Linked DNA regions of Homo sapiens. The protein of the gene in region 1 interacts with the protein of each later gene in a pairwise test. Each region holds a gene or a part of one and is shown on either strand. Other genes may lie near its edges.

What was found. The genes of interacting proteins can lie anywhere in the genome.
Region 2: the proteins of SLC38A9 (region 1) and LAMTOR3 interact in binary tests that used the Homo sapiens proteins (3 or more experiments, as listed by UniProt).

Annotation. Positions count from the first base shown.
Region 1 is NC_000005.10:55,667,318-55,674,340, reverse strand, and holds part of SLC38A9 (neutral amino acid transporter 9), read left to right. Parts: intron 1-1,645; coding exon 1,646-1,778; intron 1,779-4,461; coding exon 4,462-4,583; intron 4,584-4,720; coding exon 4,721-4,784; intron 4,785-5,019; coding exon 5,020-5,113; intron 5,114-7,023.
Region 2 is NC_000004.12:99,891,428-99,898,378, reverse strand, and holds the start of LAMTOR3 (ragulator complex protein LAMTOR3), read left to right. Parts: upstream 1-3,951; 5' UTR 3,952-4,044; intron 4,045-4,378; 5' UTR 4,379-4,415; coding exon 4,416-4,424; intron 4,425-6,344; coding exon 6,345-6,379; intron 6,380-6,951. UniProt on the Homo sapiens protein: As part of the Ragulator complex it is involved in amino acid sensing and activation of mTORC1, a signaling complex promoting cell growth in response to growth factors, energy levels, and amino acids.

The sequences.
Region 1 (7,023 bases):
AACACATAAACTTTGGGGGACATATTCAAACCACAGCACTAGTATATATAATATGTCATATTGATCCCTATATCCACATATTTGCTCTATAAGTGCTCTATTTACATATTCATTGAGTTGACCTATATAGTACCCAGCATATTTAGGTTTTGCGGTAGAGAACAAATAGTAAAAGATTCAAAGATTCTGTATGCTAACTAGAGAGATAAAACTAAGTTTAACACCTCTGCTACCATTTCTCAAATATCACAGAATTAATAAGAAAAATAGCAGAAATTAAATGTTCAGTCACTTGGCTTTTCAAGTACTTCCCACAAGATTAGATTAACGGCTGGGTGAGGTAGCTTATGCCTGTAATCCCAACTCTTTGGGAGGCCAAGGCAGGTGGATCACCTGAGGTCAGGAGTTGGAGACCAGCCTGGCCAACATGGTGAAATCCTGTCTCTACTAAAAATACAAAAATTAGTCAGGCATGGTGGTGCACACCTGTAGTCCCAGCTACTCTGGAGGCTGAGGCCAGAAAATTGCTTGAACTCAGGAGGTGGAGGTTGCAGTGAGCCGAGATCGCACCACTGCACTCCAGCCTAGGCGATAGAGTGAGACTCTGTCTCAAAAAAAAAAAAAAAAAAAAGATTAGATTAACAGTATCTCCAGAAATGGTTACCATATGTTACTACATTTTAAGTTCCTTTCAGAACCATAAGTATAGAGGAGTTAGTGGAACCAATGATAAATCTGGATTTTTTTTCTTCTTTCTTTGGATCTGTGCCTGAAATGGCAAATTATGTGCAATTTGGGGCACAGTGTCACTTATGATTTCAAGGAGCCTAAGAATCAGCAGAGGGATACAGTCTTTTGATAAAACTCTGCCTGGTCTTTTCATTTTGGATAGTATATTACTGGAAACTTCAGAAGAAAATGAGGGAGTTTCAGAAAGGAACTGAAGAGGTTGATGACTGAAAAGGATGATTGAACACCAAAATCTGCAGTTGATTAGGATGCAGACGTGGAAAGGAAGCATGTATATAAATAAAAGGGTATGTTACTAAAATCCGCAAAAAGTAGAATGAGGCAAAATATCTCCATTGTCATGATGTTCCATTTTATACTGAGTTGGATAAGTCTCATAAGGGATCTGATAGTTGAGGTCACTAATCCTTAATACATGAACCAAGGAATAAGAATTCTGTTTATCATAGGAAATAACTTGGGCCCATAAGGAAGGAGTAGAGACTCTTCAGGAGAGGGACATTTTAGTCCATAATTTCTCTGATTTAGTGCCAAAAGCTTTTTTGAGAGACTATTCAAAGCTGTCTTAAGTTTCATTGTTGGAAATTGATAGCTGCTGTATTTCTTTTTAATAACTGTTTTAAGTTCTTTCTGTTTTGTCTTCTCGGTTGCTAAATTCCTGAAGATTACAAAAAAAGTGTGCTTAAAGTAAAAGTGTTATGAGACAAAAGCTTTATTCTGTGGATAGGATAATACTTCTTTTGTAACATTTTCTGTTTGCACCAAAAGTGAGAAGTCAATGCCTTGCCTTTGTGCATCCCATTACTAATGGAGGATAAGAAGTTATTTTCTTCAAAGGCTGACTTCCAGAATTTTTGGCTGAACACTTTTTGTCAAGTGTATATTCCCTTTGTAGGCCTTTCTGTATAGAGCCCACAAACATCGTGAATGTGAATCATGTCATTCAGAGGGTTAGTGACCATGCCTCTGCCATGAACAAGAGAATTCATTACTACAGCCGGCTCACCACTCCTGCAGACAAGGCACTGGTAAGAGACAAAACATTACTAATAGTCTAAAATTCAGTTGAAATGAACAGTGAACAATATAAGCCAGGGCACCTCCCAGTGATTGAACTTCTTTCTGACTGTATTTCAAGGACAGCATCATGCAAAGTCAAAGATAGTAATTAACACACATCCTACATCTCAGGCCAGTTCATTCTTATCTAAATTTGAAACAATGTTTCTATGTTGACAACAACCTGGAGATTTTTTTGGATTAAATTCTCCTGATCCCCATTCCCCAAATCTCTGAGGAGGATAAATTACTTTTGAAATGGCAAGTTAGGCCATTGACTAATAGCAAATAATAACATGTTCTGCTTAGTGTGGACAATTTTAACTTTGAAGCTGTAAGGGAAATATTTTTTTAGAAATTTTCTACAAGAATGGGAAACTGGCCAAGCACAGTGACTCACTCCTGTAATCTCAGCATTTTGGGAGGCCAAGGCAAGAGGATCACTTGAGCCCAGGGGTTCAAGACCAGCCTGGAGAAGATGGTGAAACCCTGTCTCTACAAAAAAAAATTTTTTTAATTAGCCAAGCATGATGGCTCGCACCTATAGTTCCAGCTACTTGAGAGGCTGAGACAGGAGGATCCCTTGAGCCCAGGATGGATCCCTTGAGGATGCAGTGAGCTGTGATTGTGCCACTGCATCCCACCCAGACTGAGCAAAAGAGTGTGACCCATCTCTTTTTTTTTGAGATGGAGTGTCGCTCTATCACCCAGGCTGGAGTGCAGTGGCGCAATCTCGGCTCACCACAACCTCTGCCTCCTGGGTTCCAGCCATTCTCCTGCCTCAGCCTCCTGAGTAGCTGGGGTTACAGGTGTGCGCCACCACACCTGGCTCATTTTTGTATTTTGAGTAGAGACACGGTTTCACCATGTTGGCCAGGCTGGTCTTGAACTCCTGACCTCGTGACCCACCCACCCTGAGGTGCTGGGATTACAGGCGTGAGCCACTGTGCTCCCAAAGTGCTGGGATTACAGGCGTGAGCCACTGTGCCCGGCCATGTGACCCCATCTCTTAAAAAAAAAAAAAAAGAAGAATGGGAAACTGAAATATGTACACATAAATATAGTAGTTTCTTATTTAGCATTATTCTTTTATTGATCAAAACCAGGAGTCAAAGAGCCAGATACTAAATGTCTTAGACTTTGAGGTCACATGATATTCTTCATTTTGTTTATGATCATCAAAATTATAAATTATAAAATTTATAAAATTATAAAAACCATTCTCAGGAAAGAGGCTGTATAATAATCAGGTTGAAACCAGATTTGGCCTATGGGCCGGAGTTTGTTGACCCTTGATCTTCTAAAAATCTCTATTACTATTTTAGGATAAAAAATATATATAAGTAATTTGGTAGTTTATAAAAACTACCGCATATGAGATAGTCAGAAACTTGCAAGTTTAACTGAAAATAAGAACATTCTGGGAGAAAACAGGATTTTGAAATTAGTATTATTAATAAAAAGAAGAGAACCAACATTCATTAACATTTAATAAGGACCAGTGATTGGGCATCACTGGAATGTAGCTATCTCATTTAAGCCTAAACAATAGCTATGTGAAATAAATATTAAGATTTCCTCTTGTATGGCCAAAATAGGGATTTCCAAAATGTTCTGGGTAGGATAATTTTTTTCCCAATTTTTTTTTCGGCTTTTTCCCCTTAGGCCTTGACATCAGTAGTTGTGGCGAAGTCTTAGTTCCATAATGGAATTACTTAAGCCCTTGGAGGAGTAGAGATAATCCTGTATCTCTGGGTCTAGTTGAGACCTTCTAGAGGCTCTGCTCTTGGAAACAAACCTCCAAGATCCCAGATGAGCAAGTTTATACCTGCATGTATATTGTTTGCCTGGAAATAGAGTCAGCATGTGCACCAAAGTTGAATGCCATTTGTTAACTGACACTGAGATGAGTCTAGGAAGTCAAAATATATAAACAGTGATGTAAAATTGACAATGATATAACCATTCTTAATGAATGTGTGTATACATCCACACTCGTTTTCTGAAAATCCCAAAACTATTTTGGATTTTTAAACTCTTGCTTTTTTAGTTAGATTTTCTATATTTGAAAAATAATTTTTAAATTCACTAATCAGGGATGCATAGTACTTGCATCCACACTCGTTTTCTGAAAATTCCAAAATTATTTTGGGTTTTTAAAACTTGCTTTTTTAGTTAGTTTTTCTATATTTGAAAAGTCATTTTTTAATTCACTAATCAGAGATTCATAGTACTTGTTTATGATAGTTAAAATGTGTCTAGAGGGCCAGGCGTGGTGGCTTACGCCTGTAATCCCAGCACTTTGGGAGGCCGAGGCGGGTGGATCATGACATGGTCAGGAGATCGAGACCATCCTGGCTAACATGGTGAAACCCCGTCTCTACAAAAAAATACAAAAAATTAGCCAGGCGTGGTGGTGGGCACCTGTAGTCCCAGCTACTCGGGAGGCTGAGGCAGGAGAATGGCGTGAACCCAGGAGGCGGCGCTTGCAGTGAGCCGAGATCGCGTCACTGCACTCCAGCCTGGGCGACAGGGCGAGACTCCGTTCAAAAGAAAAAAAAAGGTGTCTAGAGTCAGGTGTTCTGATGTGTAACAAATATCCTATTTTGCATTTCCTGGTTCTGAAATTTATCTATGTTTCCTTTTTACCAGATTGCCCCAGACCATGTAGTTCCAGCTCCAGAAGAGTGCTATGTGTATAGTCCATTGGGCTCTGCTTATAAACTTCAAAGTTACACTGAAGGATACGGTAAAAACACCAGTTTAGTAACCATGTGAGTGAAACTGCTTTTTGGAGCATGACTTAAACTGTATATGGATGAAAATTACTGGTTTTTTAAATTTTTGTCTCAATTAAAATGTTTGAAGAGTGAAACTCCATTTTTTTACTGCTATTACTCTGTGTTTTCAGTTTTATGATTTGGAATACCATGATGGGAACATCTATACTAAGCATTCCTTGGGGCATAAAACAGGTAATACTAATTTTTCAGCACACTTTTTGCCTAAATGTTTTTCTCTTTATATTGTAAGTTTTATAACAGAGGTTTTAATAAATCTACATAAAATTCATTAAAGAAAATAGATGGTTATATTTAGTTTTTCATGAGTTGTCAAGTTTTTATCATGATTGTTTAGGGTAAAATAATTGCATATGAATTTATGCTTACATGATGATATATGCTGTTTTATACTTTTATTTTTAAACAGGCTGGATTTACTACTGGAATGTGTGTCATCATACTGATGGGCCTTTTAACACTTTATTGCTGCTACAGAGTAGTGAAATCACGGACTATGATGTGTAAGAATTTGACACAGTGACAATAGATTATGGGTATTAATAAGCATTTCCCTTTGAGGCAGATCACTAGTGTGTATATGCTACATGTGTGTCAGCTGTCTACTTTGTACCTAAAGATTTACTTCTGTAATTCATCGCTTTCAGCTAAATTGATTTGCTAATAATATTTAGTGGCTGCTTTTGAAATTCAGAGAAGCTGGGAGTTATTTGCAGAGTGCATTCACTTTGGTGCTAGTTTCTTCATAAGAATCATTTAAAAACTCATATTTATAAAATAATGTCTTTGCCAAAACTAAATTGAGAATTCTGTGCTTCCTGTCAGTTAATGGTGACTTGTTTTGACCTATTCATACCAAAAGATCTAAATGTTAGAATCTGCTAAAAGTAGAAATTATAACTAGAAAAATATGAAAATGTAAGCAACTCCCTAGTAATGAATATTTGAAGTTGTGTGAACACCTTACCTCTACTCGTATCTACAAATTCTGGATCAGGGAAATATCTTTTTTAGGTTGTTTTAAAGTAGTCTAGGACCTAAACAAACATGCATTATTTCATTAAATCTTAGCAAGTATGAATCAACAGGCCAGACTTTGCCTCCAGTTTTTTTCTGTGCCTACTAAGCAGCTTCCTTCTTTATGTTAACCAGATCTCCTATTAGTCACTGGGCAAGTATTTGTTTAAAAGTCTTGAGAAGCCAGACCTGGTGGTGTGTGTCTGTAGCCCTAGCAACTCAGGAGGCATAGGTGGGAAGATCACTTTAGCCCAGGAGTTTGGGGCCAGCCTTGGCACTGTAGCAATACTTCATCTTAAAAAATAAAAAATAAATAAAAAATAAAAAAGTCTTGAGAGAAGATTCATTCTGGTTTCTAAATGGTAAGAGGAGATAATTTTAGCCTCTGGTTTCTAAGGCAAATTGTGGCTGAACTTGGAAGACTTCTTTAAATGTATACAGTAAGTTCATGTCTTATCTAATTCAGCATCTCATTTAAAATTGGAACAGAGCCCCCACAGAGTTCTCTCTATAACTGTTTTTTCTTTTATTTTCCTTTTTTTTGGAGACAGGATCTCACTGTCACCCAGGCTGGAATGCAGCAGCGCTATCACAGCTCACTGCTGCCTGGACTTCCCGGGCACAGGTGATTCTCCCACCTCAGCCTCCCAGGTAGCTGGGACTACAGGTGCATACCACCATGCCCAGTTAATTTTTTGTATTTTTCATAGAGACAGGGTTTCACCATGTTGCTCAAGTTGGTCTCGAACTACTGGGCTCAAGTGATCTGCTCACCTCTGCCTCCCAAAATGCTGGGATTATTGGCTCTATAACTGTTAACTTCCATGTTATTAAACTACTCCACACCATTTAAAAAGAAGAGAGGCTGAGGCACGAGAATTGCTTGAACCCAGGAAGTGGAGCTTGCAGTGAGCCAAGATTGTGCCACTGCACTTCAGCCTGGGTGATGGAGTGAAACACTGTCTTAAAATAAAATAAAATAAAATAAAAATAATAAAAAGAAGAACTTCCACCAATTCATTTTACAAAGTCCACACACCCCTAACACAAAGCCTGACACTACCAAAAAGAAAGAAAATAATATAGAAACGTAAAATTTATTTGTAAAACATTATCATATAGAATCCAACAGTATATCAAAACATATCCTGTGCCTAAGATAAGGTTTATTCCAGTAATGCAAGGATGTTTCATTATTAAGAAATCCAACATAATTCACTACATTAACAAATTAAAGAAAAATTCATAATTACATCAATAGATATCAAAAAGGCACTTAATAGAATTCAGCACCTGTTTCTGATTAAAACTCTAAGTGAAAAGCACTACTTAAAAATAGCAAAGTCTATTTATTCCCAGACAAGTACCGGCACCATTCTAAAATTATGAAATGCTA
Region 2 (6,951 bases), on another chromosome or scaffold:
ATAAGTGAAAATAATATATTTTGTAAACAGATTACATTTGAACACCTAAATAAGTATTTGTTTCATAATCATTACATGCTTGTTTATGATTTACAAAGATTTGGTAGAGAAAAGTACAGTCCTTAAGGCATATATATGCCAATGCATTAAACTACTCAGCTTTTGTGCCAGCTCAGGTGTTCATAGGAACAGGAATGTGGAATACCAGCTTTTTACTTTAATTATACTTTTATGCTGAATTTTTCTTCCAGTTAAACCTTTAATTACACTAGTATGTAAAGTAGTTACTGAGAAAAATAAGTTTTTGATTTCCCTTCTGTTGATCTGTAACATTTTTAAATGAAGCTATTTAACACATGACATGCTAATGTTACTTAATGGATTCCTATGTATTTCATTAAAAAAAAGTCTCCCACCTGTGTTAAGACAGCTAAATATTTCTTGATGTTGGCTTGAGGACCAAGTGAGCCATCTTGCCAGTTAAGCAAGTTTTATATCAGAGGACCAAATGGTTAAGAAGAGAATTTGTACATTTCTTGAGCTTCCCCATGTGAAGCTTGGGTTCAGTACTATCCTATTACTATCCATCTTCATAATGAGTGAAGCAAACTGAAAGGGAATTCATAATCTTTTTTCTTATCTGAACAGAAAAACTAATGAAAATCAACAATAAATCTTTATTTTAATTTTCATTCAACAGCTGAAAAACCATGTCTGTTGACCACATTGGACCATTGCCTAGTTAAAATCCATAAAATTCCCTATAAACCAATGAAAAGAAACTTGTCTGGCAATAATTTCCAACATTTTAAATTCTAATTTTTAGTTACAAAGAAAAAGGATAGAATGAGGCTTTTCAAGGAATTCTTGCTCATCCCTTCAATTATTTGGCAGGTAAAACAGTCCTAGAATTCAGCTTCCTTTTTGGTTTTATTACTATTAAATAGATACTTTCATATAAATGGAAACACTTTTCCTCAAAACATTAATTCAAAACATACTCCTTATATTAAGGATTATAGCACCATATTTTTTGTATATTCCCTATGTGTAACTTTTTCCTGTTGGTATGTGATATTTTTCATTTAATATGACTATCTGCTGGTGTTGGGGCCAATAGATTTGTGAATATTCTGTGGATGTGTCTATGTATAGGTGTATATATATATATATATATTTTTTTTTTTTTTTCCCAGCTAATTACCTCAAATGTGTGATTGTTTAATATATACCACACTATGTTTGCACAGAGCAGGGCTTCCATTAGCAGTGGATATTTTTATGTCTGACTTTGAAAATCAGTCAACACAATTTCATTGGTGTGAATTATTTGTTGCTCTTTTTCATATTTTAATGGAGAGATTCCTATTATAAGGCCCATGCTTCAAACATAATTATATCTTTCTATATCCAGCCATCTGGAAATACATAGGGGTAAGAAGTATTTCTTGAAATGTCCTTGTTTAGTAAGTTAGTAAAAACTGGGATGACTAGTTGCCAAGATGTCTTGTAACTGCATAGCAGATGACACCTGGCATGGCAAGTCTCATTCACTTCAGCACAACACTCTGTACATTTCAGTCTGATATTCTACTTTGCCATTTAAGGACACCATTAAAATCATAGAGATTTTCAGTGACATTGGAGTATTGTAATTATTACTTTCAAAAAATTATTTTTAATAGGATGATTAAACCAATGAGAAGAAACACACATAAATGATATTTTGCAGTTTATCTGTATTAAGAAATGCTTCTTGCCAATTTCTAGTTTTAGTTTTTGGATTGCTACATAAGACTTTCTTTCCATTTACTTTATGTGTTTTTAAAAGCTGCAGGTAATTTTTAAGGTTTGATGGAATTATAATGGAAGCCTTGTATAAGTTAAATGAAATTGGTAAAGGAGAGCTTACTTTGTCTATAATGCATTCAGGATTAAAAATTAGATTTCAAAATGAAATGTCTGATTTGTAAAATATTTAATGTTATATCAGACTTACATAAAATTTTCTGTGAGAACTCAAATGCATTTGATTTTTAATGAATGTTCTGAATGAAATATGAATTTTTGTCTTTCAGTCTCTGTAGTTTATCTCAATATATTAATAAAAAGGTCTGTTCTCACTGTAAAATGTTTGTTTTTATCATGTTTTATACTCAATATGGCCACTCTTTCATTCATTCAACTATTCAACAAGTATGTCAATGCTTGCTATATCCCAGGCAGTGAGCTGGGTGCTGGGAATTAATCACTGAATAAGAAAGACAAAAACCTTAAAGAGTTTACATCTAGCAAAGAAAATAAATATCAAGTAAATAATTATAATTATGATAAATTCTACAAAGAAAATTACAGGGTACAATGAAAGCATTTATCTAGAAGACCTAAACTATTCAGTGAGGGTCAGGGAAGGCTTCTCTGAGAGTGAGTTTAAGCCAAAATGCAAAAGATGAGATTAGTAGGATTAAGGTATGCTAGAGAAATATCTCAGGCAGAACGTGCTAAGTTGGTAAAGTGATAAAAATCTTTATGGAAGTGAAAACAAACTTGTATGATCATAGCATAAGGAATCCAGGGTAGGTGAGAGAATTAAGATAGGGGCCAGATCCCCATAAGAATGATATATAAACCATGATGCTGATATTGAACTTTATCCTAAGTCAATAAACTTGATTTTCAAGGAAGGAGTTAAATGATGTGATTTGGGTCTTTAGAACATCATTTTTGTTGCTGTGTGGAGACTGGAGGGCAAAAGAGAATGTAAGAAGAATAGGAGGTTGTTGTCAAAAGAGAGATGATCATGGCTTGGAGTAGGGTAGGAATATAGATAGGTGAATAGTTTTCAAAGATAGGAGGTAGAATCAACAGAACTCTGATTAGATTTGTGACATATGGAAGCAGCAATTGAAAACCAGGCTAAAGTTTTCTGAAAATTTGGCTATGAAAGGGAGTAGAGGAAAAACAGTGTGGTAGCTGAAAGAGGATGCGATTTCTAAAGAAGCTTTTCTTTTGAGGGTCTCGCTCTGTCACACAAGCTGGAGTTCAGTGGGGCGATCACCACTCGATGCAGCCTCAAACCCTGGGCTCAAGGGATCCTCCTGCCTCAGCCTCCCGAGTACCTGGTGCACGCCACGTTCGGATAATTCTTAATTATTATTATTATTTGTAGAGATGGGGTCCTATCTTGCCAGGCTGCTGTGGAACTCCTGGGCTCAAAGGATCGTCCCGCCTCGGACTCCCAAAGTGCTGCGACTACAGGCGTCAGCCACCGCACCCGGAAAGCCTTTTATTTTTTTCAATTATTATTTATTACATGAGACCTTACTAATTTTTAAAAATTCTGATGTAAAAGGGAACATAGAAGGTGCCCGTAATCAGTGTCTGCATGTTAAAAGTAGACGCTTGAAGTGCTCCAGAAAACCCATGGCTCCTCCCCATTCAATCTAGGTAAGGCCTTCAGTAAAGAGCACCCATGGGGAAGTCACAAGAGCCTAGGAAACAGGTCAGAAACCTGTGGACCTGGTACTTCCAATCACAGGCAATCTGGTGCTTGCTCTTCAGCTCATCACACCATCCCCTCAAATTTCTTCATCTACAAGAAAAGGTTTTAAGATAACAGACCCTGCAAAACTAATGACATTTATACACCCTCTCTGCACAAGAATGTCTTGTAACACATAACCTTGCTTGCATTTTCTGGGTTCCTTAGGGTCCAGCGATCTCGTACAAATCTACCCCACAGCTGACTTCCTTCGGCCCGTGACACAAGGCGCAGGCGCAAGACGCGGCCCGCGGTGGGCGGGGGAGGGGCGGGGCGCGTGCGGGGCGGGGGGGAGGGGAGGGGCGCGGCCGCCGGACGCGCCCTCGCAGCTTCCGCCGGGCCCCTCCGGAAATCCCGTATCGTAGGGCGACGGCGGCTTAGAAAGTGCTTCCTGGAGCGCAGACGAGGTCATGAATCATGTGACGGTGGCTTGAGGAGGAACCTGTCTTTAAAGCTGTCCCTGAAGTGACAGCGGAGAGAACCAGGCAGCCCAGAAACCCCAGGTAACTGGCGCTACTTTGCCTGGTTTTGAGGCCTAGTCCCGCAGGTGGCGCGGGTGGTGAGATTAAACAGAAGGAGAGGACCCTCTCTTCTTTTCTTTGGGCCTAGCTCTTTGGGGTGGAGGGGCAGGGATGGGGTGGGCTGAGGTAAGGTGTGCCAGCTGAGTACCTGTGGGGGTGCTGGGGCACTCCGACTCCCACTGGGCTCGCTGGGCCAAGCCCTAGAACCGCGGGGGTTTTACCTGGTTCTGACCAGGGCTGATCTCGCGTATTAAGTTGTGGGTGGGGAGGACGAGGAAGCCAAAGAGGGAAGAGTCACCGGGAGTTTCTCTTCCAGGCGTGGAGATTGATCCTGCGAGAGAAGGGGGTTCATCATGGCGGATGTGAGTGACACCCCTACATAAGAGGAAGGGGAGAGTGGGGAATTTTGAGGGGCATACTGAGCGGGGAGAGGTAGAACTTCCCAAACAGAAATTTGTTTTGATCCTCCCAGCCCCACCCATCCCAGTTAATTATTTTCTCTGATATCTGAAGTGGGAGACTAATATGAATGAATTTGCAGGATCCTGAGTTTCTGCCTCGAATGGGGGTGTAGGACACTAAGGTGCTTGAGACTGAGAAAATTAGGTTCTCCCTACTCCCCAGTCCAGCTGGGGCATAAGAGAGGCTCTGTATATTTACCATTTGAAATTCTGAATGATGGTTTGCTGCTTTTCCTGTCAGAATTTGGTCAGTAGGACATGTACCCACAATACTTTTTTCCAGTAAGTGATAACAATATCTCATTTGGTTTATTGTAGCAATTTACGATGATTTCTAACCCATGCCTCTTTAGAAACATGGTAACGTGTGTGTGTGTGTGTGTAGGAGGATAAAATGATCAGTCGGGTTTGGAGAATAGTAAGTGCTGGATGCTCAAAACAAGAGATACCTGATTAATCCATGTGAGGTCAAAATTGATACCTAAATTGTCAGTGAAATTCCTGGGATAAGAGAGTGTAATGAGACAAAATAAGATAGTCTTCTGGCCAATGCGGTTGCTTAGTCTGTAATCTCAGCACTTTGGGAGGCCGAGATGGAAGGATCACTTGAGGCCGGGAGTTCAAGATCAGCCTGGGCAACATAGCAAGACCCCGTTCTACAAAAAGAAATTTAAAAATCAGCCAGGCGCATTGATACCTCTGTAGTCACAGCTATGCTGGAAGTGAGGCGAGACGATTGCTTGAGCCCAGAAGTTGGAAGTTGCAGTGAGCCCCAGCTTAGAAAAATAAAATAGTCTTCTACTTCTTTAGTCTTAACTGTGTTTCGTGTTAAACACTTGACACACATTGTCATTTATTTTATATTCTGTAACACTGGGCTGGGCGCGGTGGCTCACGTCTGTAATCCCAGCACTTTGGGAGGCCAAGGCGGGTGGATCACCTGAGGTCAGGAGTTCGAGACCAGCCTGGCCAACATGGTAAAACGTTGTCTTTTCTAAAAATACAAAAAATTAGCTGGGCATGGTGGCAGGTGCTTGTAATCCCAGCTACTCGGGAGGTTGAGGCAGGAGAATCGTTTGAACCTGGGAGGCAGAGGTCGCAGTGAGCCGAGATCGCGCCATTGCACTCCAGCCTGGACAACAAGAGCGAAACTCCGTCTCAAAAAAAAAAAAAAATGTTGCCTCACATAGTCATATAGAATTTATTTTAGGTCCTTAAACAAAATATTTTAAAAATTACGTTATAATAATATGCCTTACACTGTTTCATTATTTGTTGAGTAGGTGAGTTCAACAAATAATGAAACAATGGAAGGCATATTTTTATAATGTGATAGTCACGTGAGACAACAGTCTTACAGAGGTCATATCACCTTACCCAAGACCATTAAGATGATGGTGGAAAGTCTATCTTTGAACATGGAAAGGTGTTTATAACGTCTTCTCAAGTGAACACAATAGCAACAGGATGTAAAACACTAGTATGAAAATTATGATGTAATTTTATGGCTAAAATGTGTTTCCCATTTCTAGGTATGCTAATCCATGCATCTTCTCAATAAACTTTTAACAACACTTTTATGATGTAGGTTCTATATTAGCCCTATTCAACAAATAATGAAATAAGCTTAGCGAAAAAAGGTTGGTTAACTTACTCCAAGTTGCGTGACTAGTAAACATCCAAATCAGACAGAGAAAGATAAAACACAGCAAGAAAGGTTATGAATGATAACTGAAGTTCCTTAAAATTTGGATAGGACAGGATCTAGAAAACAGTGGAAGGCCTATTATTACAACATTATTTTTTAATGCTCTCTTTCAGGACCTAAAGCGATTCTTGTATAAAAAGTTACCAAGGTAAGAAATTTTTAATTTGTTATTGAATAAATTCTATATGCCATATGTTAATTTTATGAAGCATTTTGTCTGTATTTTCCATGTTGTGAAGTATCTCTGAGATTTCCTTTAATATGAATATTTTTTGCCAGCCTCACGTCCTCTGGAAAATTTTCGTCACAACCGCTTTCCTCATTTATGTCAATAAGTTTGCCTTCACTGAGTTCTCTGTGTATCTAGAGCGATAGTGTCAGCATTCCCTTGGTCATCTGTTTCTTCTATAATTCTTTACTTTCTATTTGAAATTCAGCATTTCTATTTGAAATTTCAGCATTATTACTTTTCATTTCTTTGCTGTATTTCGTCTTTGTTGGCCAGTTTCCTCTTTTTATTATCTCTTTTTCTAAATGTCACATACTTTATCATTGGGAGACAAGGAGGTACAAAACTACATGCTTTGCTATCTCTGCATGAGCTGCATAACAGATGCACAGTGACCAACCATCAACATACTTTGAAAGAAATGATGTGGCTGGTTACTGATGACAGTGTGCATCTGTTAATTACATAATTATTTATGTAGTGATTTGTGG